Homo sapiens: one gene and its partners. The protein of the gene in region 4 interacts with the protein of the main gene of each other region in a biochemical or structural test. Each region holds a gene or a part of one and is shown on either strand. Other genes may lie near its edges.

Region 1 (3,500 bases), on a different chromosome or scaffold from region 4:
AAAAAAAAAAGAAACTTATAGCACATTCATAAGATGGAGTACTATGAAATCGATAAAAATCATACTATATGCTCTCAAAAAATACTTATTTAGTATGTGCCACATGATACCATTTTTGTTTTATAAAACTTTACATGTACAGGTTAAAAGACTAAGATTGAAAAAATAAATAAATAAAAATAAAACTTACACATAGCACAGAATATAGTGGATGAGATTTGCCAAAAAATTCATAGAGGTCATCTCTGTGCTCTACTGTACTTTTCTAAGTCTATTTATTGATGTTATTTAGACCATATTTTTATCTCAGTAACTTGAAAGAGCACACTCACAATCCAATAAACTGTATTGGGGAAAATGTACATTTAGTGCAAATCCAACACAAACCAGAAAAATACATACAGCAAAATGACTGACTTACCCTGTTTATCTCAACAGTCCTTGGTTCCATATCTGTGCCTATAAAGAAGCAACACAATTAACTTTTTAATATTAAAAAATAATATATTTAGCATATAATATTGCCCCATGAAAAATGGTTTCATTTTCTAGGTCTTTCAAGAGAAGACACTAAAGCAAGCAGGTATTGTACCCTTCCTCAGCATCCAAGCTGGTAGCCAAGTCACCAGGGGCCATGTCCTCTTTTTTTTTTTTTTGACACAGAGTCTCGCTTTGTCACCCAGGCTGGAGTGCAGTGGCACCATCTCAGCTCACTGCAACCTCTGCCTCCCAGATTCAAGCAATTCTTCTGCCTCTGCCTCCAAATAGCTGGGATTACAGGTGCCTGCCACCACGCCCGGCTAATTTTTGTATTTTTAGTAGAGACGGGGTTTCACCATGTTGGCCAGGCTGGTCTCAAACTCTCGACCTCAAGTGATCCACCTGCCTCGGCCTCCCAAAGTGTTGGGATTACAGGCGTGAGCCACCGTGCCCGGCCTGCTGTGTCCTCTATTTTAAAGAAGTGCTCTCTGTTTGAGATCAATGTGGCCATAACCATTTGGTCTGACAAAAGTGGATGGGCTATATAGCAGCAGCTGCCTGGAACATGGTGAGTAAATGCTTGGAGGATGACTCATTTTTGTGTGTGTGTGTGGTTTTTTTTTTTTTTTTTTTTTTAGATGGAGTCTCACTCTGTCGCCCAGGCTGGAGTGCAGTGGTCCGATCTTAGCTCACTGCCATCTCTGCCTCTTGGGTTCAAGCGATTCTCCTGCCTCAGCCTCCCAAGTAGCTGGGATTATAGGCATGTGCCACCATGCCCGGCTAATTTTTGTATTTTTAGTACAGGCGAGGTTTCTCCATGTTGGCCAGGCTGCTCTCAAACTCCTGACCTCAGGTGATCCGCCTGCCTTGGCCTCCCAAAGTGCTAAGATTACAGGCATGAGCCACCGGGCCCGGCTGAGTCATTTGTGTTTCATTGTACATTTTTTTCTACCTTAATCAAAGATAACCCTCCATTCAACAAAAGACTTAAAAGGACCCCTTGTCCCACCCTGCCCCCAAGGATATACACACTTTTTTTTTTCTTTTAACTGGCCCAATTTTCCCATAGAAGGTATACACACTTCTGACCTTTCTCCAGTGACCTGTAATTTATTAATTTTCTCTTTGTAAGTAATTTTATTTTACCATGCACTCCAGCTTTCTGCTTTTCTGTTTTTCAGGTGCTTTGTGTTGTGCCACTGAAGGAATTTCTTTTTTTTTTTCTGGAGACGGAGTCTTGCTCTGTCACCCAGGCTGGAGTGCAGTGGCACGATCTTGGCTCACTGCAACCTCCACCACCCCCGCCAGTTTCAAGCAATTCTCCTGCCTCAGCCTCCTGAGTAGCTGGGACTACAGGCGTATGCCACCACGCCCGGCTAATTTTTTTTTGTATTTTAATAGAGACGGGGTTTCACGGGGTTAGCCAGGATGGTCTCGATCTCCTGACCTCAGGTGATCCGCCCGCCACAGCCGTCCCAAAGTGCTGGGATTACAGGTGTGAGCCACCATGCCTGGCCACCACTGAAGGAATCTCTATGGCTTTCCTACCTTCAGAACATGCCTTTCAGAAAGCTCAGCTTATGTGGCCAAGCTCAAAAAATTAAAAAACATTTATATTAAAGAAGACTGGTTTTTAAAAAACACATTTTTTTTTTTTAATTTGGGTAACAGGATAGTTTTGCTCTGGGTGTGTCCGTGTAATACCTGAATTTTTCTGGGAAGGATCTGAAACTCTTTTTGTGCCAACCAGGTTTTGCAGGCCAGTGATGACAGGAGCGAAGGAGGGATGACAGCTGCTGTGTGCACTCTGCTGACTACCCTGAAAGAAAGACCCAGGGGTCACCTGTGTGCAGACACTGACTTGACCCCCTAAATGCATACTTATCCATTAGTGTGCCAATTACTGATGTCACCATAACCATCTAACAGAAAATCGTGAGGAGGCCAGGAAAGAAAACAAAAATCACCCACACTATTCTCTTACTACCTCAACCCAATCCCATTTAGACATTTCCTCCATTGCTTTCTCCATTATGTGTGCTTTTGTATATGGTTTCAATCACCAAGGTGGAGACCATAGAATCATTTCAGCTGTTCTTGCTCCACATAAAATCAAAACCATTTTCCTAGGTTGCCACATAGTGTTTATGTATATATAGTCAGCTAATGGGCACTATGTTTCATTTGGGGTTACAGTCAACTTTATTACCCAAAATGTATTATGTATTTTGCTAAAACAAGTATAATAAGACCTTGATTAGCAGAAACCTGCCAAAATAGAACCCTCAATTGTGGGGAAAAAAGCACCAAATCTGAAGGGAAAAAGACTTGTTTTAGGGATATATAACATTTTTTTCTCAAAGATTTTCCTAGAATCAGTAATAATTTAGTCCAATCTGCTAGATCTCCATTACCTGTCCCTTTATTCATTTAAATGAATATGTGAGGTTAATACTGTGTAGTCTTTTAAGGCTAGTGGCTGTTCAACAAAAACTGTATACATAGTGAAGGGCCTTTCTTATGTAGACGAAAACATTGCAAATAATGAATATTTTTTTCTACCAAATTATTCTGCATCAAAATTTTAAGCTAAGCCTAAGATCACTGTTATCAGTTCATAAATTATAATTTGGTCCATTTTCTTAACTCTATGATGAAAGTTGTTTAATATTTTAATTCCTAAAATATGAAAACCTTCAAATATATAGAAAAGCTGAAAGAATTATACAATAGACATCCATATAAATAGCACCTAGATTTCACAATGAGTATTTTGCTATATTTCCTTTATCACATAGCCATTTATCTATTCATCACTCATCTTTTTTTAAAAAATTCATTTCAAAGTAAGTTGTAGATCTCAGTATACTTCATAGTGGCTATATACATTTAAAGGAGTGTTTTTATACTTTTCCTTAAAGGATATGATTTAAGTAAATGGTACTATAATAGATAACTAATCAGAACTGAGGAAGTACAGTATATTATAACTTTTGCCTTTAAAAAATTTCAGAAAGGTG
Region 2 (3,500 bases), on a different chromosome or scaffold from region 4:
ACACATATGCTTCTCCCTAATGGATAAGTTTTCTCATGGCTCTGGTCACTCTGAACTCAAAGAAGAGTCAAAGTTTTCTTAACTTTGAACACTTTCTGAAATTATCTGGGCCGGGCACAGTGGCTCATGCCTGTAATCCCAGCGCTTTGGTAGGCTGAGGCAGGCGGGTCACGAGGTCAGGAGTTCGAGACCAGCCTGACCGATATGGTGAAACCCCATCTATACAAAAATTACAAAAATAAGCCAGGCACGGTGGCATGCACCTGTAGTCCCAGCTACTTGGGAGGCTGAGGCAGGAGAATCGCTTGAACCCGGAGGTGGAGGTTGCAGTGAACTAAGATCACGCCACTGCACTCCAGTCTGGGCGACACAATGAGACTCTGTCTCAAAAAGAAGGAAATTACCTGCATAATGTCTTGAATATTTTTTTTAAATATTAAACATAAAAGTAAAAATTCATTGTTAAAAATATATCTCTTGTGGTACACCCAGACAACGGAATATAAATTAGCACTAAAAAGAACTGAAACAACGTGCAGGAACCTTAAGTGTATATTAGCAAATGAAGAAGCCATTCTATACACTCTGTGATTCCAACTCTATGGCATTCTGGAAAACACAAAAGCATGGAGGCAGTAAAAGGATCAGTTGTTGCCAGGGGCTTGCATAAATATGGGGAGCATAGGGAATTTTTAGAGCAGTGAAACTACTCTGTATGATATTACAATGGTAGTACATGTCATCACCTGCATCAAAACTCACAGAAAATACACCAAGACTGAACCTTAATGTAAACTATGCATTATAGTTAATACTAATGCATCCACATTGGCTCACTAATTATAACGCATGTACTAACTACACTAACGCAAAATGCCAAAATTGGGGAAACTTGGGGACAGGAGTGGGGATGGTGGTGATGGGGTGGTTGAGAGAGTGCTAAGAATTCTGTATCAGCCCAACTTTTCTGTAAACATAAAACTGCTTCCAAAAAAGTCAAATAATTTGAAAATAGTTAATTTAGAAAACATCTCTTAATAGAAAGTTAGAAAAAATAGGCCCAGCCATTTCATTAAGAGATGTTTTCTAAATTCGGCCTATTTTTTCTAACTTCCTATTATTAAACTTTTCAAATATGTAGAAAAGTATAATAAATGTCCATAAATGTACCATCTAGATTCAAAAATATTTCACTAAATTGTCTTTTTGTCTATAATGATACTACAGAACACTGGAAAGCAAGTTACAAATATCATGACATGTCACTTCCCTTCCTTTTTTTTTTTTTTTTTGAGACAGAGGTTCGCTCTTATTGCCCAGGCTGGAGTGCAAAGGCGTGATCTCAGCTCACTGCAACCTCCGCCTCCTGGGTTCAAGCGATTCTCCTGCCTCAGTCTCCTGAGTAGCTGGGATTACAGGAATGCACCATCACATCCGGCTATTTTTGTATTTTTAGTAGAGACGGGGTTTCTCCATGTTGGTCAAGGCTGGTCTCGAACTCCCGACCTCAGGTGATCCACCCGCCTCCCAAAGTGCTGGGATTACAGGCATGAGCCATTGCACCCAGCTTCTTCCTTTCATTTTTGAGATAGGGTCTCACTTTGTCACCCAGGCTGGAGTGCAGTGGCACAATCACAACTCACTGCCACCTCGACCTCCCAGGCTTTTTGTATTTTCTGTAGAGGCAAGGTCTCGCTGTGTTGCTGGGCTCAAGTGATTCGACTGCCTTGGCCTCCCAAAGTGTTGGGGTTACAGGCATGAGCAACCATGCCCGGCCATGACACATCACTTCTAACAACTTTAGCTTGTACCTCCCCCAAATAAAGCCATTCTCCTGTATAACAACCCCAATGCCATCATCATACCTAGGAAAACTGGCAACAATTCCCTAAGATCATCTAATTATCGGGTCCAGATTCAAATGTACCCAACTGTGCCCAACATGGCCTTGACTGCTGTTTTTTGATTTCAGACCAGCGTCCAGTCAGGGTTCCTGCCCCCTCTGCACTCAGTAAATGCCCACCCTGTTCTCAAGGATCCTGTGACCCCAAGGAGTAGCATGGCTATGTGGAGCCGGGGCTCTGCCCATACTCCTGACCGTGAGAGCAGAGCCAGGTCCAGCCCTTACCTTCAGGAGGGACAGGGTCAGGGAGTCCTGGCAGCTGCGCAGCAGAGATTCACATTCATTCAGAGACTTGTTGTCCAGTGCAATGCCATTGATCTAGAGCAGGACAGAGAGCATGTCAGGCCACAGGCAGAGCGGCCTCAGGCCTACCAGTCAGGATCTCTGCCTACCTAACCTCCTGTGCTAGACAGTCACCAAATGCAAGGTGCCAAAGTCAGGAGTTGGCAAAGGATAGAGGTCTTTCTGGTGAGGCCCAAGGAGTCCAACTAAGGGGATTCTGAGGTAGAGGAACACATAAGCCTTCACAGCAGGCTAGGGGAGGAGCATGTCCTTCTGGGATCAGAACACCGAGGACCCGGAGGGAACATCTTGGCACTGCTGTGCCCGGCCATGTGGCGTGGGACCTTGGCTCAGAACTTCCCAGCTCCTTGCCTCCACAGAGGAAATGGAAGATAAATACATGCATGTGGCTCGGGAGAGCGGGGGACTAAAAACAAGACCATGGATAGGAAAGGCCTTGTAGAGAAAGTACCACGCGAAGTGGGGCCCTGTGAGTGTTCACAAAGAACCTCTCAACCCTGCTCCCGGAATCTCTGCTCACAGCTATGTGCAGACCTTCTTAAGAAGTATATGTGCAACCGGTGAATGACCAAACTGTGATACACCCACATTGCAGAACACTGCTCAGCAACGATAAGTAACAAGCAGCCAGCACACGCAGCCTCTTGGGTGGATCTTGCAGGCATGGTGCGGAATCAAAACAGCCCAGCTCCAAAGGTCACATACTATATGATTCCATGTCTGTAACATTCTCAAAAGGACAACATCACAGAGATGGAGAAAAAATCAGCTGCCAGGGGGCAGGGATGGGAGGGAGCAGGGGGTGTTACTACAAATGGGCAGTGGGAGGGAGACCTCAGTGCTGATAGAACAGCTACGTATCTTCATTACGGTGGTGGTTACACAGAACAACATGTGTTTAACCACACACAACCACACACACACACACACACACACACACACACACACACACACAGTACCAATGTCAATATGCTAGCTTTGATATTATACTCATGCAAGGTGCAACCATGAGGGGAAGCAGGGAGAAGAGTACATAGGACCCCCCTGTACTATCTCTGCAGCTTCCTATGAATCTATAATCATTTCAAAGTCAAGTTTTCTTTTTTTTTTTTGAGATGGAGTCTCGCTCTGTCCCTCAGGCTGAAGTGCAGAGGCATGATCTCGGCTCGCTGCAACCTCCGCCTCCCAGGTTCAAGCAATTCTCCTATCTCAGTCTCCCGAGTAGCTGGGATTACAGATGTATGCCTCCATGCCCGGCTAATATTTTTGTATTTTAGTAGAGATGGGGTTTCAT
Region 3 (4,190 bases), on a different chromosome or scaffold from region 4:
CAAGTACATAAGATTAGCATTATATTAAGAAGCTTTAGCAGTTTAGCAAAAGACTGGAGCCAATACCACAATAATTCATGCAAGAGAAAGCAAACATGGTTATTTAAATAAAAGGCACTCCTCTCCCAGCCTAATTTTATGGTTTGCTTTGGTGTGGAGACTCAAAGTCTATCATATACAAAACTATACCAGCAAATTGCCCAGGATGATAAATAATGTAGCATACCTACCAATCAGAAAGTGTGTACAGCTCTTTGTCAGTGCTCACATTTCCTCACTATCACTATTTACGGAGCACTCTCACATACCTTAACTCACAGCCAAGGGCTGGTGCTATCCCCACTGCAGAGGTTTTTTTTTTTAAGTAGCCTCAGACAGTGGAAGATTCACCCCAGGTACAGCTCAAGCAAGAAGACACTGGACCAGCACCAGATCTCAGATGGCCACACCAGGGTCCCTTTATGACAATGACTTTCCCATTCCCATGAGGTGAACAGGCTCACAATTTTTCCATGTATTAATAAGGAGCTGAAGAGAAACAAATAAATTACTGTCAGCATGAAAATGTTACCTCTTCTGAGTCACTTCCACTTTTCAATTAAAGCACCTGCCAAGGGCATTATAAAGATTAGTTTCCATCACTAGACCATGAACACCTTGAGAATGGAGCTGTGCCCTCTCATTTCTGAGGCGTTTGCACAGTTTCTGGAATATGATACGTGCTCATTAAACACGTGCACACGCCATAAATAAATAATATAAATAATAAATGAGTGAATATATGAAGGTAAAAACCAATGAATTCACAGTGTGGTGTTTTCCACCCCATTCCATCATTCACTCATGCATTAAGACTTTTAAAAGCAGCTAAAGTGAAAGGCAGTAACTGCCCTTTTAACAGATTGCCAATACATCCTCCACTACTTAAAAAAGGGTTTCATGTCATATATAAATCTCAGAAGTGGAGAGGGCTGACAGGTTAATTATAGACACAAAGAACAGGGACAAATGGACTATGAGGTAAGCGAGTTGAAATGTGCAGACACAATGTCCTCCCTGGACAAGCATTTATTAATAAGCCTGCAAGGATTTACCCAGCCCGGCCAGGTACAGGTCTGCTACCAGGCTCGGGGACGATTCTGGGGAAGGCACAGTTCCTGCGCTTGAGGAATTAGGCTGGTGGCTGGAAAGGCAGTGTGTACCTTTGAGAATAATCAGAGGTCTCTGTGGGACGAGGCAAACAGGTGGAAGATAAGGCCCAAAAACTGGCCCGCCTACTCTTTTAGGGGGGTGAGATAGAGAAGACCTCCTCACTGGGCCAGGCCAACCGGGAAAGAAGCATGGGTAGGACTGTGGCTGGCAGACAAGTCAAGAGGAGGCCACCAATTCTTCTCCTGCACCTCCCACCAAACTCCTTCAGCTGCTGGACGCAGGAGCTTGAGTCAAAAGGATCCATAAGGATATTTCCCTTTCTTCTCCACCCTTCCCCCAACCCCAAGTGAAAAAGAAGGATGTTTAGAAAGTCTGGGAGACAAGCTGAAGGGCAGCTTCAGCAGGCAGATGAGCCCAAGAATGGAATGTGCCGCCTACAGGCAAGGAGTGGCCATGGGTGGGGAGAAAGGGGACTTCTTTTTCTCCCTTTCCTCATTCGAGGTACTTACTGAGTCTCTTCTTGGTGCCCAAGCACTGAACGTGACATCTCTTAGTGGGACATCAACCTGTGTTTGGCCAGATTAAATGGCCAAAGCCCAGACCTCTGAACACTGAGTCTGGGTCTCCCTGGGGGTTTCACTTTATTAGGGGGGCAATGGTTCTGGTGGCCCCTGATTCAACGTGAGTCCTTCTAAAGATCCGAAGCCCCTCTTAGATTTCAAGCACCTCAACCCCACCCCAGGTGGACACCCCATCGCAGTATCTACTCATGCCCTGAGAAAAAAGGGCTGGTGCGGGGAGGGGAAAGAGATAATCTGGGAATGCTAGGAAGAATGACGGCGGGGCCACGTTCTGCAGAGGGGAGAATGACCAAGAGGGTTTACTTGAGTTTGTTTGTTGTGTTTATTTCCCGAATCCAGCACATTCTCCAAAAGCCATTCGAGGGGCGAGCCTCGGCCGTGGGTCAAGTCCAAAGAGCGTGTTTCGGTTGTTTTTTTAGGTTAATCCCACTTGCCCCCCACCCCAGTAAACTTCCCACCCACCCCACCTCACTTTCCAGGTCTTTCCTGTTGCGTTCGGCTGCACTGCGATCTGGGAAGAAGGGAGAAGTGCCATCTCCCAGCGCGCGGGATCTGCGGGGACCCTCGTCCCCTCGCTGGTTGACAAAGAACTAACACCCGCCCCGCCGCGCTTCCGGGGCCAAAGAACGAAAACTGCCTTCTTTTTTTCTGGCGGACACGGAGCGCGCCCGCGGCGGGCCGACCAGCCCGGGAGCGCAGCCTCCGCGAAGGGGCGGCGGGGAGCGGCGGGGCCCGGGCGCGCGGAGAGCGCTCAACTAACAGCGCACCTGGACGCGCCCGGCTGCGGTTCCGACTCCGTCCCCGACCGCGCCCGCGGGGCCCCAGTCTCCGCATATCACCTCCCATAGCGCCCCGCTTCCACGCACGTCCCAGCTGCTCTTACCCGGGAAATGGCGAGAGGCTGCTCGAAGTCCTTGCCGCCCACGAGGCGGAAGCCCCACGGCCCCGGGCCCTGGAGGTCTATCTGCTGGGTGGTCATGGCGCGGCTGTGGCGGGCGACGACCCGCGGGGACAGACGGGCAGGACGCGCGGAACAGCTTGCAGGGCACCCCCGGCGGCTGTCGGAGAAAGAGCGGCGCGGCGCGGGCCCGGGGAGCCTGGGGCTGGCGGGGGCAGGGCAACCGCGAGGGCCAGGGCGGGGGCGGCTCCGCCCAGGCCGCGTAGCCGCCCGCCGCCCCGCCCGTCCTCCCGCCCGCAGCCGCTCCCCGCCCTGCGCGCCGGCCTGGGGGCCCTGGCCCGGAGTCCCGCCGAGAGAGCGCGAGTCAGATGCGGGGCCGGGGCTCTCAGCAGCTCTGCCCGGGACCCCACACCGCCTCCCTCCCTCCTGTACGCACGGCCGCACCGCGGCTCTCGGGCCCGGGGCGGGTGCTAGGTGAGAGGGAAGCAGGTCCTGACAGCGAGACAAACTCGCGCCTCGTGCTTTGTAAAACGAGAAATTTGAAGTGCTGTGCCAAGTCAGCCCTCTGAGGTCGGCTCCGACTTCCCATTTGCTTTTTGTAATCGGTAATGATGTTTAAAAGGTGCTTTCGAACGATCTCATTTGATGCTGAGGCAACCGGGACGTTTAGTCCCATTTTACAGATGAAGTAACTGAGTCTGCTCAGTAGGTGAGAAGACTTGCCCGACGCTACACCACTCGTCAGCATCTGGACCACTGCCCGGGCCCAGTGCTGCAGAACCCCATCCTGGAACTTTTATAATGCTAATGAGACCATCACTCAGGTTATAACTGAACTTCAAGGCCTTCCTAGAAATCTTTCCTCCAGGCTGGAGTTCATGGTAGGTTCTGACCTCAACAGTTCAAACCTCAAGTTTGGGGCGGGCCAAGGGCCAAGTCAATGCAAAAGAAGAGCTGAGTCCGGGACCTGGATTCCCAGCCTCCCACCAGCTTCCTAGCCAGGCTCCCCCTGACGCCCTCCCGGTGGAGTGCATTCTCCACGCCGGACCAGACCATTTCTCATGCTGTCCATGGCGTCCCCACCTCACCACCAGTGAAAACCCAGATCCTTACAATGCCTACAAGGCCACCCCTAGAATGGCCCCAACTCCCTCTCTGACCCCAACTCCTCCTGCCCTTTCCTCACCTGCCCCCCAGTCTGCCAGGCTGTGCTCCTTGCTCCTAACTCAGGGCCTTGCCTCAGGGCCCTGTCTGCAATGCTGTTCTCCCAGACATCCCCACCACTCTCTGTCATTTTCTAGGGGCCGGACACGTGGCTCACGCCTGGAATCCCGGCACTTTGGGAGGCTGAGTCAGGAGGATCAGTTGAGCCCAGGAATTCTAGACCAGCCCCAGCAACACGGCAAGACCCTGTCTCTACAAAAAAATTTAAAAAAATAAAAATTAACCAGGTTTGGTGGGGCACACCTGTCCCAGCTTCTAGGGAGACTGAGGTGGGAGGATGGCTTGAGCCGGAGAGGTCAAGGCTGCAGTGAGCTGTGGTCGTGCAACTGTACTCC
Region 4 (4,169 bases):
AAAAAGTCCTTAGTCTCACAGCCTTTATGATTTGTTTGGCTCCTGTCATACATGATGAAGACACTAATTATGATGACAAATATATATACATATACATGTGTACGTGTGTGCATGTGTGTGTAATTTTTGTACACAGACTATGTACCAAGCATTGTGCTAGGAACTTTACGTTTATTTAATCCTCACAATGTTTCCTCATATATTTGGTATTAATCTCATTTTACAGATAGGACGACTGATTCTCAGAGAGGTTAAGTCACTTGCCCAGGAATATACAGCTAGTTTAACTGGGGAAGGCCTGGATGTGAAAATTCTTTCCAGTAAATCAGTGTCTTGACATGAAAGCATGTACCGCTCATCAACCTGTTCTCCACCGCCCTCCTCTATCCTAAATGGGCAGCCCTGTTGAAGAATCACAGCCAAAGCCAGTCTTGCCCCCCGGGGCCAGAGGAATCCATCTGCCCCTGCCTACCAGAGCGGGAGGAACGCAGGCTCTCAATGCCTGCTTCAGCAAGGGAGGAGAGAATCGCCCAGAGCTGAGCGGCGTCGTAGGGTGGTGGTCCTGACCGGTCAAGGCCCCTTCTCCTCGTGAACTGGGGGCCAGGGAGCCCTTCTCCCTGTCCCCCCGGCACCACAGCGCTGTAGAAGTGAAATCCCGGCTCCAAGGTCACCCTCTCCCGAGCCTGGAGCTGGAAAGCCACGGGGACTCCGGGGACTCCCCCAAGGCCCGGACTAGCCTGGCACCCACCCCTCACCACTAACCCACTCCGCCTGGGCGCTGGTTCTGTGCGCTCCCGCGGCGCAGTCGCTCCGCTGCAAGAGCGCTTTCGCGCGCCGCCACCGCCCAGAGCCGGGACCAAAGCAGTCCTCGGGCACCGGCTCCCCGAGGGACACACACCCCCCCGCGCCCCGAGTCGAGGGGTTGAGAGAAGGGCGGTCGGGGAGCCCCTGGGCCTGCCGTCAGTCACCCGGATTTGTAACTGGAGAAGGGTGCGGGTCCCGGAGGGACATCTCCAGCTGGCACCTAACTCCTCGGATCCCGGACTGGGAGCCCGAGCTCGGATATTGCAACGGCTGCCCCGTGGGCAAACCGACCCTGGTTTCCGACTCCGGCCACTGGCAGCCTCGCGCCCCAGACCCTTCCCGGGCACGGAAGCGGGTCAGGTCGCCCTGCTCAGCCTCCGGAACGGCGGCGGCACAAACCCCGGCCGCTCCCAGCAGCCCCGACGAGACCCCGGGCAGCGCCTGCCGCCGGGTGGCCTCCCTCTGGGGCTGACCCCCTCGCGCCCCCGCGCGTCTGTCTGCGTTTCTGAGCCTGCTCTGACAGTGATGTAACAAGGCCAGGCTCGCGCCGCGTCCCCTCTTTCCCAGACTCAGTGCTCCCTCCTCCTCCCGCGCCCCGCGCTCTGCGCGCTGAGCTGGCGCCGGGCTCCGCTTGCACAGCACCGGGACCGACGGGCACTGCTGGGAGAGCCGCTCTCCCAGGTTCCACCTCCCCGATGCAGAGTCCGTGGGGGAAACCAGGCTTTCCTCCCAGAACCAAGGGAGCGAGCCGAGGGGGCAGCTGCTGTGGGGGCTTCTGAGGAGACAGCCTGGCTTCTTTCCCTACTTCCTGGAGAGGGCAGGAAACCTCAGGTACCTCGTTGACCCCAGCCGGAGCGTGTTGATATGAGAGAGAGACGGAGGTTGCAATAGTGAGAGGAAGAGAGGGAGGGCACAAGAAAGGGAGGGAGGGAGAGGGGACGGAGAGAAAGAGTAGAAATAGAAACAGGGAGAGATTGCAAGAGAAACGCAGAGAGAGAGATAGAGAGATTGCAAGAGAGATACAGAGACAGAGATCAAGACTGAAAGTCAAGAAGCAAGTCGGAGACAAAGGGCAAGAGAAAGACAAGAGTTGATGGGTGGGAGCTTGACTTGGATTTTTTTTTAACGCACTGTGGTTTCATCTCTGACAGAATAGAGGAACGCTGCTCCCTGGTCAGCAAGCAGCCCCCAACCTGGATGGAGTGAAACATGCGGCCTGATGACATTAACCCGAGGACTGGGCTGGTGGTGGCCCTGGTCAGTGTCTTCCTCGTCTTTGGTTTCATGTTCACCGTCTCTGGGATGAAAGGGGAGACTTTGGGAAACATCCCCCTCCTGGCCATCGGGCCAGCCATCTGCCTACCAGGCATCGCAGCCATTGCCCTGGCCAGGAAAACCGAGGGATGCACCAAGTGGCCAGAGAACGAGCTGCTGTGGGTCCGCAAATTGCCCTGCTTCCGGAAACCCAAAGACAAGGAGGTGGTAGAGCTGCTGAGGACCCCTTCAGACCTAGAATCCGGCAAGGGGAGCTCAGATGAGCTGGCTAAGAAGGCGGGCCTCAGGGGGAAGCCTCCCCCACAAAGCCAGGGTGAGGTGTCCGTGGCCAGCTCCATCAACAGCCCCACACCCACGGAGGAAGGAGAATGCCAGAGCCTCGTCCAGAATGGGCATCAGGAGGAGACGTCCAGATACCTGGACGGCTACTGCCCCTCGGGCAGTTCCCTCACCTACAGTGCCTTGGACGTCAAGTGCTCAGCAAGGGACAGATCTGAGTGCCCTGAGCCTGAGGATAGCATCTTCTTTGTGCCCCAGGACAGTATCATCGTTTGCTCCTACAAGCAGAACAGCCCGTATGACAGATACTGTTGTTATATCAATCAGATACAAGGCAGGTGGGACCACGAGACCATCGTCTAATCTCTGCCTACAAAGGTGGCTGGATTGATAGAATATGACTAAGCCCAGCTCCCCGTGGAAGCAAATTGCTCTGCTTGGAGAGCCTTCACACTGTTAGAAATTGACCTGGTATGTGATGGGTGTGATAACCTCTGGTACCCGAGAGTCATGTAAATAGGCATGTTGGGGACACATTTTAGGGAAGGGCGATGAGGGTTAAGGACACTGGAAGAGGCAGTGGGTAGGAAAGGAAGCTACTCCAGTTGCTTCTTAACAATTTACACAATGTTAAATGTTTTGTAAAATAACCCAAAAAGTGCTATCCAGAACCAGCTGAGAGCAAGATAAATCTAGAGTGGGCTGCAGATGTGAGGCATCAAATGATGCATGAGCTGACCACAGGGAAACTGAGCTGCTTTATGTTTGAATAAGTTGAAAATAAAATTAATGATCCGTTATATAAAGTAATTTTTGCCTGGTTAAAAGCTTATCACACTTGGTATTTGCTGAAAGAAAAAAAAATCAAGATACAAGAGTTAAACCCTCCTTAGATGGGATGGTTTTTGGGAAAAGGGTAGTTAAAGAGAGTTGGATTATGTAACTGAGTCTTGTGGCATTATTGTCTGACAAGATCATGGTCTCTAATAAAGTAAAATAAGTGTGAGCAGCTATGTGAAAAGTTAACATTTTTAGATGGCTATGTTACTTCTTAAACTCTTCGTTTAAATCCATTTATTGCATCTTTATCTGAAATGGGTTTTTTCTAAACATTTACTATCATTCATGTATTATTTCCTTACCAGGTGCAACATTATTTGAAATGATACTTTCATAGATTGGAATTTGTTTTCATCAAGACAAAATGAATTTTACATATATATCCAAGTCTTTAACATTGGCAGACATGTACTGATAATTACCATTCCTACATACCTTTTAAAATCTGAAAACTATAAAGTCTACACATTAGCCTTGAACATTGCACATAATTTGTATGAAATGCAATGGTTAAACCTTTGGAAGTGTCATTATTTGTACATTTGTTCAACTCCTCTCACAGACTGTAAATGCCAGTGAAACAAGAACTCATCTACTAAATTTAACTGAAGCCTAGATTTTATTAAGCTCACCTGATCAGTGAACATTACATGATAAAAGTCTCTTTATTTCATACATTTTTGCTGCTGAGGAAAACAACAAATCACAATGATATCCTAAAATGTGCTTTCTATTTCACTTGCTCAACTGCAATAGATAAGAAGGCTATCAAGCAGAATGCCATTTGATCCCCGGTGAAGAAAAATATGAATTATATATAGGAATGGTGATAGAGTTCATCTTGAAGATCAGAAGTATTTTGTATCCTTCAAAGAATGATCATTTTAAGTGATCATATAGTCTTAGTCACTTTCTCCCAAAAGGGGAATTGAGGACAAAAATTTGGGCATATATGTTTTGTGTATTTCAAT
Region 5 (3,500 bases), on a different chromosome or scaffold from region 4:
AGAGGGAGGAACATGGTAAGGCCTGTCGGGGACAGAGACCCTGTCTATCCCTACCTTCCAGAAGTGGGGGGCTGGCAGGTGGGACCAGGGGAGCTCCTTGACCCCCCCATCCCTCTCTTTGGAGACCCTCCAAACCTGCCCTGCCCCCCATGAGGCTGGTACCACTTGGGCAGGATCTGACCTGGCCCCTGGGGACCTCACACTCAGGCACACTCCTGGAAAGGAGCCCCACCCCACAGCCTGGCTTATACCCCTAGCCCTGCCCTCCCTGTCAGGGCCTGGCCAGCTCACCAGGGATCCCTCTGGGGCCTGGGGCAGAGCTTTGGGTCAAGGCACCCTTTGTCCTCCTGGTCCCTGGAAGCTCAGGAGGCAGGAAGAGCATCCGAGTGTGAGATCCAGTAGATTGAGTTCTGTGTCCACCCTCGGCCCTCTGTGCCCATCTCTACTGCCTGGACCATGCGGAGCAGCCTCCTGGGCCTGGCTTTCTGGCCTCCAGCCTAAACCACACACACGAGCTTCCTTGAAACCAGGGCACGGCCTCAGCCCTGCCAAAAGCCTGGGAGACATCTTGGGCACATAGGGTGAAGCCCCATCTGCACACGAGGCCTGAGGCAGCAGGACATGGGCCACCAGCCCCTTTCATTGTCCCCTTGTCTGACCTCCCCCTCCCTAAGCCTCTGAGAGCCTCCTGCAATGCTCATGTTGTGCCTTCTCCCTGGGATTTCTTCTTCCTGTACCCAGTCCTCCTCAATCTCGATGGCTGTTGTATAATGCTCTCACCTCCAGGAAGCCCTCCCTGATCTCACATCAGCTGCCAGGTCTTCCTGCCCAGCGTCCCTCCAGAGCTATCTCATGTGGCTCACATGGTGCTTGGGCTTGTTCACATCTGGACACCTCCCCAGCCATGGATAGGAGCTTCAGGGGTGGGACCGTCCGATCCTTCAGGGCCTAGGAGCTCTGAACTGAGCTTCCTGGTTTATTCTGGAAAAATCTCACCTGGGATGAGGCTGAGCTTGACTTTGAGGCTCAAGACACAACTGGGAAGGGGAGAATGAGGGTGCCCCTGTCATCCTGTGTGTACATCCAGGGCAGGGAGGGCTGAGGTGAGCAGCCCCACACCTGCGTCTCCCTTGCCCCAGCTCCCCTGACAGGCACATGGCCCTGGACTGAGCTGCTGCTCATGGGTGAGTCCTCATTCCTGGTGGCCACTAGCATCCCCGAGGCGCTTGGGGCAGCCTTGGTCTTTCCTCCTTCCAGGCCTCCGGCCCAGCTGCACTCCCGACTGTTGGTGTAAATGTTCTAGGACCATATTGTGGGCCCTGTCCCACCTCAAGGCTGAGCACCCCCATGTGAGAAGAACCCCAGAAACCTGAGAGATTTTGGCTCTAGGGGACACTTACCAGGTTCACCAGTGGTCCCCCGGAGTTCCCGTACTGCAAGGGGAGGAAACAGCATTAGCTGTGCCTGACCCCGCCTGAGGCTTCCTGGAGCCCCTTCTCCAGATCTGCCTCTAACCAGTGCAGAGACACATAAGCAGGTCTCATCCTCAGCAGCATCGAAAGGCCTCAGTGCTGCCCCCATTTCACAGATAAGAAGGCCATGTGGATGGCTGCCTGATGACCGAGGTCTGACTGTCACTGTTCTCTGCACAAACCATACGCTTCGGCATCTACACCCCGGAGGCCAGGCAGCACCGCCTGGTGCATGGAGAATGGGGGTATTACTTCCCATCCTGCTGGCCTGGGGGGGCCCTCTACAAAGACTCGGATTCCAGCCAAGTGCCTGAGCTGCGGCAAAGCTGGATGGACGTGATCTGGGGCATCTGGGTGAAGTGCTTTGTGAATGCTAAACGTGCCACCAACATAATCACAATAATAATGAAAAGCAATGTTGGCCAGGGTGTGTAAGCTGGGCAAAGGTGTTTGCGGGCTGTGGCCATGCCTCTGTTTCTCTGAAAGGCTGCCCGAGCGAGGACAGCAGCCTCTGACTCCCAGCGTGCCTGGCACCCTGGGGTGGAAGTCACAGGGTTAGAGCTCCACCGAATGTAAAGAGAGAACTTTCTAGCAAGTGGATGTGTCGAGTGCCAGAATGGCTCTGGGGAGGGGGGCAAGCCGAGTCAGAGACCACCTCGAGGTTGAGGTCTTGGGCACAGATGGCAGGTGCCCCGGCCTCCTGTCCCTGGGACTCACGTTGATGATGGCATCCGTCTGGATGTAGTCCATGTCGGAGTCCCGGAGGCCCAGCTCCCTGCCCTCCCGCTGGGCAGTGCTGACGATGCCCGTTGTCACTGTGTTCTGTAGGGCGAAGGGACTGCCGATGGCCACCACAAACTCCCCAGGCCGCAGGTCGGCCGAGTGACCCAGCAACAACACAGGGAGCTTTTTCTAGGAGAGAGAAGGAGAAGACACAGAGAGGGAGGCTTAGCCGTCTACCTTCAGCGGGGACCGGAGTCAGATCCTGGCAGGGGGGTCCCAGGGAAGGCATGCACATCTGTGCAAAGCCACCAGGACTGTGAAGGCTCAGGCAGGTCACCAGTGCAGACCAAGACCAGGGCAGTCCTGTGCTGAGACCCAGGGCTGGAGTACACGGAACAGAGGCTCAGCTGTGCCAGGGACCAGAGGTTCCCCCAGGGCAGGCATGGGTGCTCATCATGTGCAGCTGAGCACAGCCTCCAAGGTCGTTGAGCCCAATGATCTGATGGTCACATGGCCTCTAAAAATCTGGTAAAAGCTGCAGACACCTGGTAAAAACTACTACACCATATGCACCACACACAAACTGATGCATTTGATGGAGAGAGATCTGCAGACAACTGGAGCCCAGCTAAGGACTCTGACATCCTTGATCCAGTTCCATCTCATCTCCCAGTAGAGACACACGGGGGAACTCAGGCCTGGAGAAGTGAAGCCACTAGCCGAGCTCCACCCCACGCCGCGCACACTGAGACACCTGCACACCCCTCTTCTGCTTTTGCGCGGGCCCAGCGGAGCCTGTCTGTCTGATTATCTGACTCTGCAACTAGCCTGGCAGCAAGGAGAACAGCCAAGCTCTGTGTTCCAGAAGCTGCGTGGTGCACACTCTGAGAAGGTAATCCCGGGTGCTTGTTAGAAGGTGCCGAAGCGCACACACACACACGATAAATTGGGGAAGGCGGTTCTGTGCTCGTACCCACATCAACTTCCTGGTTCTGGTTTTGCACCCATTACCTAAGATGTCACCGTTGAGGGAAGCTGGCGGAAAGTCTCCTGGGACCTTGTGGCACTACCCTGTAGCTTCCCGTGGATCTGCGATCGGCCAGGTCTCAAGAGCATTGCCCCAACTTAGGAGATCAGTGGGGCAGGACCCCATGCCTCTGACCCTCTGGATGGCTCCCCTCCACCAGGCCACTGGTCCTTCTCATCGTTTCAGTCCTCTTCCCTTTTATTATACACCATCATGTCAAATAAGAAAGTTTCTCTTTGCAGCTTTCAATACGAGGAGAAAGCTGTCAATAATGGGGA
Region 6 (3,500 bases), on a different chromosome or scaffold from region 4:
CTAACATTTTAATTGGGTGAATAGTAAAACTTTATAAAGATCATTAAATTCCTTCACGGAAAATTTCTCTACCTAGTTGTTTTCAAGAGCTTAATGCTAAGGATTGGTTGGTGATGGCAAACTGAGACTACTTTGTCTCACAAGATAGTCCAACCTTTTAAAAATAGGGCTTACATTTTTTTTTACTGACCTCCATTCCAAAAGATTACTAGCTAAAAAATAAAAAACATTTAAATTGATTTGTATAAAAATATGAATGATTTCCAGGCACGGTGGCTCACGCTTGTAATCCCAGCACTTTGGGAGGCCAAGGCAGGCAGATCACGAGGTCAGGAGTTCAGGACCATCCTGGCCAACATGGTGAAACCCTCTCTACTAAAAATACAAAAATTAGCTGGGCGTGGTGGCACACATCTGTAATCCCAGCCACTCAGGAAGCTGAGGCAGGAGAATCACTTGAATCCGGGAGGCAGAGGTTGCAGTGAGCCGAGATCACGCCACTGCACTCTAGCAGCCTGGGTGACAGAGCAAGACTCTGTCTCAAAAAAAAAAAAAAAAAAAAAAAAAAGCATGACTATCATTTCAAAAATAAGCAACTTTAATAAATTAAACTTCTTTACTCAATTATCTGAGTTTCTTATATCAAAGCTCTTTATAAGAAACCCAATTATTGGAGTTTCTTATACCTTCTAGCTCCTTATACAAGGATAGAAGATAGAAGGATATTAAAAGAGGAATAAAAAAAGCAAATAATTTTTTATTTATGTAACTAAAGTTAGGTTTTCCATATAACATTTTATTATGTGCATATAGACATACATATTCTAGTAAATAAAAAGAAGACAAATCCACTCAAAGATAGCCACATTCAAACTTCAAATAATATTTATTACAGTTAATGAAAAAAAAATCAATGTTTCTTTTAGAAAAGTAACGCAAGCACTAAGCTGGTAATACCAATAAAGTATTTATAGTAATATTCTATAGATTATTTATAAACTCTGCCATTACAGAACTAAAACAAAATGTTCTGAAACATTCAAGAATTTGTAAACAACTGACATTAGCCCTCACCATATCACCAGATTGGATGCTGTTCAAATGAGCTGCGACTAGAATTAGTATTCCCAATTCCTTAGCAAGCCATTATTACAAAATAGGATTTCATTTTCTTTATATGCATCATATGCTGTATTTGATACAAGATGATGGGAGTTATATTCTTTATATGAAAATCAGTTGATGCTTTGGGAAGACCCCAAAAAAGCAAGTGACAAAACAACAAAACAAAATGATAAACTGCTGTAAAATTAAGGGTAAAACAAGTATAAACAATTGAGGAGTCATAAAACATTAGAAATCTAGATCTTATATGCAGACTGCTTCACAAACTTTTAAGTTCTCACTCCAAAGCTGGTAATCAGTGATAATGCATTGGCTTATATAAGAATGATGACCCAGAGTTCCTGGCAAAAGACACATACTTAAAGAAAAGACTGACACATGAATGTAGATTTTTAAGTAATATATTATTTAAGATATGTGTCAATCGTTTATGACTCTTCACTTAAATCACTTTCAGTCAGCCAAAACTACCACCCGTTCTGATCAAATCAGATTAAAGGCTTTTACTCGTAATAGAGGCATCAAAATTTTTTCTGGATACCCCAAAAAAGCTATTGGCAATAGTTGCCTTTAGAATAACGTTTCTCGGCTTCATCACTACTGACATTTTGGGCTGGATGACTCCTTGTTGAGGGGGGCTGCCCTGTGCACTGTTTGCAGCATCCCTGACCTATACCTTATACATAGTAGTAGCAACACCTTCCCAGTTGTGACAGCCAAATATTCCTGGAGATTGTTCAGCAAAATCATCCCTGATTGAGAAATACTGACTTAGAAAGTGATGAAGATGGGACAAAAAGACTTATCAACTCCTCCTCCCTTTTCTGAACTATTTAAATTACCATTATGGTAGGCTGAATAATAGTCTCCCCCTCCACAAGATATCTATGTCTTAATTCCTGACACCTATGAATGTCACCGCATTTGGAAAGTTTCACAGGTGTGATTAAAGATCTTGTGATGGGGAGGTTATTCCAGAGAGCACTAAATGCCTTCACAAGTGTCCTTCACAGAGGGAGATTTCCCTTTCTCTCTGACACACACACACACACACACACACACACACACACACACACACACACGTGGGGAAATGAAAGACACAGAGCTGAAAGATTTCAAATGCCAGCCTTGAAGACTGCAGTGTGTAGCCGCAAGCCAAGGAATGCCAGAAGCCACCAGAAACTGGAAAAGGCAACAAGTAAGTTCTCCCTTAGATTCTTTGGAGGAAAAATGTCCCTGTTGACACCTTGATTTTGGCCCAATTATACTGATTTCAAATGTCTGGCCTTCAGAATCGTAAGAGAATACATTTATTTATAAGCCACTAAGTCTGTGGCAATTTGTCACAGCAGTCACAGAAAACTAATACAATCATAAAAAGATTTTAGTGACTTAAAAAACATAATTTTAAAATCTGCAACAAGCAGATGAGATAATGTGTGGAGAGCATTTAACATAGACCTTGAAACATGGTGGTATCTATAATATTATCAAATGTTTACATCAGCATTAACTATGACTAAACGCCAACCTCTTGATAGCAAGAAGAAAAAACAAGGAAGCTCAACTAGTAAAACTGGGTATATTTGTTCAAGGCTCATGTGAACGAAAACACATAAATCATCTACTCATGTGATGAGTGTACTTGCCAGTTGTATAAGCACTGTGTTATAATTTGTTCTGTACTGAAAAGATAAATTATGGATGAGGCCACCTAATGATGGCTTCCTTGGAGAACCATGCCTGAATATTCATTAGTAGAAAAGAAACAAGAAGGCAGAGGAGGGAAGAGTATGCAAGAGAGTAAAGCAATGGGGATCAATGAGGTATGTGCAGAAGTATTGACCTGGTGAGAGACCAAGTTCCAGCATTAGAGTTACCTAAATTATATACAACCTCAAAAGCTTTGTTGAATGATTTCATTATTAAAATGGAATATTCCACAGGATGTATTATTTTACACTCAAATGGTGGCTCCTGGGGATTTTAACAATATAAACATGCTCCTGCCCCATACCAGACCTACTAAATTAGAATCCTTTAGCGTAGGATAGCTCCAAAGGATTCTGATGCCCACTTAGGTAAAGAATCCCTGCCAGAGTCACTTCATGGTAAAAATGACCTACAGAACAAAATATAAAGTATTTATCCTTGAAATATGCATTTAAGTAAATCAGCTTAGTATTTTCCTAAGTTAAAACTTCTCCCAACATGTACCCCTCTGAGTTCCACCACAGAATTTCTCTAAACGAATCCCTCACCTTTCACTTTTCCTTTCCTAAGCATATGGCCCCCAGTCTGCTCAGAGAATCATTTTCCCCACACTTTCTCATACATTTTTCTTTAAAAGTCCCACATATCTCCAGCTGCCCTAT
Region 7 (3,500 bases), 4.9 Mb from region 4:
TAGAGACCAATGAAGGCAGCTGGGAGCCAGATGCAGCTAAGGAAGTAGTCATAGCCATGCATTCATTCATTTCATCGGTCAACACTGTACCCCCCAGGCCTCCTTCTGGGCTCCGTACTGAATGAGCAGCAAGGCTCGGTCCCTGCCCAGGAAGCTCACAGTCAAGTGGGGAAGGTTACACAGCAACACCCCATGACCACACTGTCTGGGGAGTATTGCCTTGCAGAAATGAAAGTGCAGGAGGGAAGGCTCCCAAAGTCTGGAAAAGATATCCCAGATAAAGCATCATATTTTGATGTGGGGATATTTTGAAGTGGCTATACCAAACAAGCCTTGTCAAAATGGAAAATCACTGTTCTTTAAACCCATTGTTTAAACCTACTTTAAAATCACTGTTCTTTAAGAGAAATGAGAAGCGGAGGTCTCTAAGCAGTGCAGTCTGAATATCTTCCTTACTAGATGGTCCTTAAGGTCCCTGTAAGACCTGAGCTTCTTCCAGTGCAGCTCCATCGGATGATGACCAGGAAGGGGGCCACCTGAGGTCAACTTTGGATACACTGTTCTATCCATCTTTCTCTTCTTTATCTCCTAGTCACCCACTAGGGCTCGGTTCAAATGCCAGTCCCTCCCAGAAGCCCTCCTAGATCTCCCTGCAAGGCATGGCCAGCCCTTGCTAGGCTCCCAAGGGTCTCTGCAAAGCACAGCACCCTGCCCAGCACTGACTTACTTCCAGCCGCAGGTGGGGCAGGGACTGTCTGATTCATCTCTCTCCTCCCTCCCCGCCTCTCCTCCCCAGCCCCTATCCCCACACAGGCCTTTCTTAGCAAAGCACATTGAAATGAGTGCAGCAGCCATCTAGGAGGATGCCGTCGGACAGGAATCCTGGGGGCAGCAATGAGTGGAGAGTCTGGAGCTGCTCAGTGTCCAGAACTTCCCAGGCCACTACCCTCCCCCTGCTTTCTCTCAGCTCCACTACTAGCTTCACCAGACGCAGCTCTTCTGCTTGCCCCTCAGTTTTGTTTTTTTTTTTTTTTTTTTAGTGCTTGAAAAGTCAACTGCAAACAAAGCAGCGCACTCTCTTTGTGGAGAAAAGCACATTTTAGTGGGAGTTGCATTTGGAGAGCCCAGAAGCCAGCAGCAGACTGGAGATCACACTTAAAGGACCATGGAACTTCTGAAACAGGCTAGTTGTAGGGCAAGAAGATGATACTACTATGCCCTTACAGGGTTGTCAAGGAGCATTTCCTGATTTTTTACAGAGTATTTGGGCACTGAGAATATAATTTCCCTCAAATTCAGTGAGCCAATCTCAGTCTAAATTAGTGGGAAAATGTGAAGACATAAGTCTTCCACTATGTGTCCCTTCTTTGTCCAGAGCACATTCACTGTGGGATCTTCCCTACGTCTGAGAACCGGCAATGAATATTTTAATAGCCACAGCTTCTCCTTCCCACTGACAAAACCTCCACTGGACTCGCCATAGCATGCTGGTGGAAATGAGGGTATGCACCAGAAAGACCTGAGCTTTCTCCTAGGCAGCCTAATCCCTGAGGGCCCCACCCACATCTGTACAACAGGAGTGATAGGAACAGCCCCGGCACCCTTCAGAGCAGCAGCCAGGATGCTGAAGGAAGGAGGAGACAGAAGACATGTGGCCTGAGGATCTGAGGCCAGTGACCCTGGAGAGCTGGGTTCAAATACAATAGAAACAAAAGGGAGTTGCAAAAGTAGAGAAAGTAGAGAGCCAATGGCTGAATGGCGGCCACCCTAAAAAGATATCCAAGTCTTGGCTGGATGTAGTAGCTCACACCCGTCATCCCAGCACTTTGGGAGGCTGGGACAGGAGGACTGCTTAAGCTCAGGAGTTTGAGATCAGTCTGAGCAACATAGCAAGGCCTCATCTCTACTAAAAATAAAATTTAAAAATTAGCCAGTTGGTGTGCGCCTATAGTCCCAGCAATTTAGAAGGCTGAGGTGGGAGGATCACTTGAGCCCAGGAGATCAGCACTGCAGTGAGCTTGATCATGCCACTGCACTCCAGCCTGGGTGACAGAGCCAAACCCAGTCTCAAAAATAAATAAATAAATAAATAATTCCAAGTCCCAATCCCAGGAACCTGTAAATGTGATCTTATTTGGAAAAAGGATTTTTACACCTATAATTAAATTAATGATCTTTAGATGACGTGCTTATCCTTGGATTATCCAGATGGACCCTAAATCTCAGGACAAGTGTCCTTATAAGAGTGAAACAAAGATTTGAAACAGACAGGAGGAGGCAACGTGACCAGGGAGGCAGAGACTGGAGTGATGCAGCCACAAGTCAAGAAATGCCAGTGGGCACCAGAAGCTGGAAGTGACAAAGGAAGGATTCCCCTTAGAGACTCCAGTGGGACAGCAGCACTACCAACATCTCGATTTTGTACTTCTGGCCTCCAGAACTGTTCAAGGACACAGTTCTGCTGTTTTAAGCCAAGATTGAGGTGATTTGTTACAGCATTTACAGGAAAAAATACAGCACCTAAGAAGTAGTCAGACAGATGAGGGATCTGAGTCCCAGAGAGGGGGCTCACTCACCCGACCCCACGTCAACCACTGGGCCAGGACACTCGGGTCTCTCTGACGCCAAAGTGCATGCAGTTCCGTAGTGGCCCAGTGCACAGCTCAGAAGGGGGACCCACCGGGACCTAACTGGCCTCAGGCTGTGCTAACGCAAATATAGATTCCGAAGTGAGGCTGCAGTGGGCTTGCTCCTGTCTGGGCTGATCAGACCCCCACCTGCACAGCGGTGTCCCATTCTTAGCTTTTCAGGGGGCCAGATAAAGTGGGCATTCTGCCTAAAGAAGTGAAGATGTGGGGGCCTGATCCCTGTCTTTGAAGGTCCAAGTGGCCTAACTAGCTGTCATAGGGAAGAAGAAATGGATTTTTTGTGTGTGGGGCTTCAAAGGACAGGATCGGGCCAATGGGGCAACCATTGCCGAGAGGAAGATTTTTGGCTTGGAATAATGAAGAACTTTGTAATAACCAGAGCCAACTGAGGATGGAATAGGAAGGTGGTGGGGGTTGGTAGGTCCAAGCAGAGGGAGGCTGGGTATGCTAGGGGAATTCCTGCACCACACAAAGGCTGTACTTGATCATCTCCGGAGCTGGCAGTCTTGTTTGAGGGTCTATGCTGGTAGCTAAAATATCTGGAAACATATGTGTGAATCTAGGTTTTCAGCACATAAACAAGGCACACTCTCACTAAGACACTTATTACGCAGTTTTTGCAAAGAGCTAAGTACTGAAAATAACCAGGAATGAGCTTGAGAAAGAGACCGTCTATTCTTCCATCTCCTATACATAAAATGTCCCTCACCCCAGGGAGAAAGAAAGAGGCCAAGTATGTATCTCCACAGAGACATCATCTTCTAACCAGACCAGGAACTAACAGCACATTCACAGGTACCAGGGGAGCCCTGGACAGTCTGGAGTGGTGTCTTTTTCCAGGGAAAGCCAGAG

Evidence for each region.
Region 1: the proteins of TMEM215 (region 4) and PATJ interact in a test that uses a peptide from one of them, tested with the Homo sapiens proteins (one large-scale study listed by IntAct).
Region 2: the proteins of TMEM215 (region 4) and DLG5 interact in a test that uses a peptide from one of them, tested with the Homo sapiens proteins (one large-scale study listed by IntAct).
Region 3: the proteins of TMEM215 (region 4) and PDLIM1 interact in a test that uses a peptide from one of them, tested with the Homo sapiens proteins (one large-scale study listed by IntAct).
Region 5: the proteins of TMEM215 (region 4) and HTRA3 interact in a test that uses a peptide from one of them, tested with the Homo sapiens proteins (one large-scale study listed by IntAct).
Region 6: the proteins of TMEM215 (region 4) and PALS2 interact in a test that uses a peptide from one of them, tested with the Homo sapiens proteins (one large-scale study listed by IntAct).
Region 7: the proteins of TMEM215 (region 4) and FRMPD1 interact in a test that uses a peptide from one of them, tested with the Homo sapiens proteins (one large-scale study listed by IntAct).

The regions. Positions count from the first base shown.
Region 1 is NC_000001.11:62,119,980-62,123,479, reverse strand, and holds part of PATJ (inaD-like protein), read right to left. Parts: intron 2,300-3,500; coding exon 2,185-2,299; intron 460-2,184; coding exon 422-459; intron 1-421.
Region 2 is NC_000010.11:77,822,256-77,825,755, forward strand, and holds part of DLG5 (disks large homolog 5), read right to left. Parts: intron 2,222-3,500; coding exon 2,129-2,221; intron 1-2,128. UniProt on the Homo sapiens protein: Acts as a regulator of the Hippo signaling pathway.
Region 3 is NC_000010.11:95,288,204-95,292,393, forward strand, and holds the start of PDLIM1 (PDZ and LIM domain protein 1), read right to left. Parts: upstream 2,801-4,190; 5' UTR 2,713-2,800; coding exon 2,617-2,712; intron 1-2,616. UniProt on the Homo sapiens protein: Cytoskeletal protein that may act as an adapter that brings other proteins (like kinases) to the cytoskeleton. Involved in assembly, disassembly and directioning of stress fibers in fibroblasts.
Region 4 is NC_000009.12:32,782,171-32,786,339, forward strand, and holds the start of TMEM215 (transmembrane protein 215), read left to right. Parts: upstream 1-1,369; 5' UTR 1,370-1,635; intron 1,636-1,955; 5' UTR 1,956-2,013; coding exon 2,014-2,721; 3' UTR 2,722-4,169.
Region 5 is NC_000004.12:8,290,254-8,293,753, reverse strand, and holds part of HTRA3 (serine protease HTRA3 isoform 1 precursor), read right to left. Parts: intron 2,385-3,500; coding exon 2,190-2,384; intron 1,434-2,189; coding exon 1,401-1,433; intron 1-1,400. UniProt on the Homo sapiens protein: Serine protease that cleaves beta-casein/CSN2 as well as several extracellular matrix (ECM) proteoglycans such as decorin/DCN, biglycan/BGN and fibronectin/FN1.
Region 6 is NC_000007.14:24,579,952-24,583,451, reverse strand, and holds part of PALS2 (protein PALS2), read right to left. Parts: intron 1-3,500.
Region 7 is NC_000009.12:37,657,454-37,660,953, reverse strand, and holds part of FRMPD1 (FERM and PDZ domain-containing protein 1), read right to left. Parts: intron 1-3,500. UniProt on the Homo sapiens protein: Stabilizes membrane-bound GPSM1, and thereby promotes its interaction with GNAI1.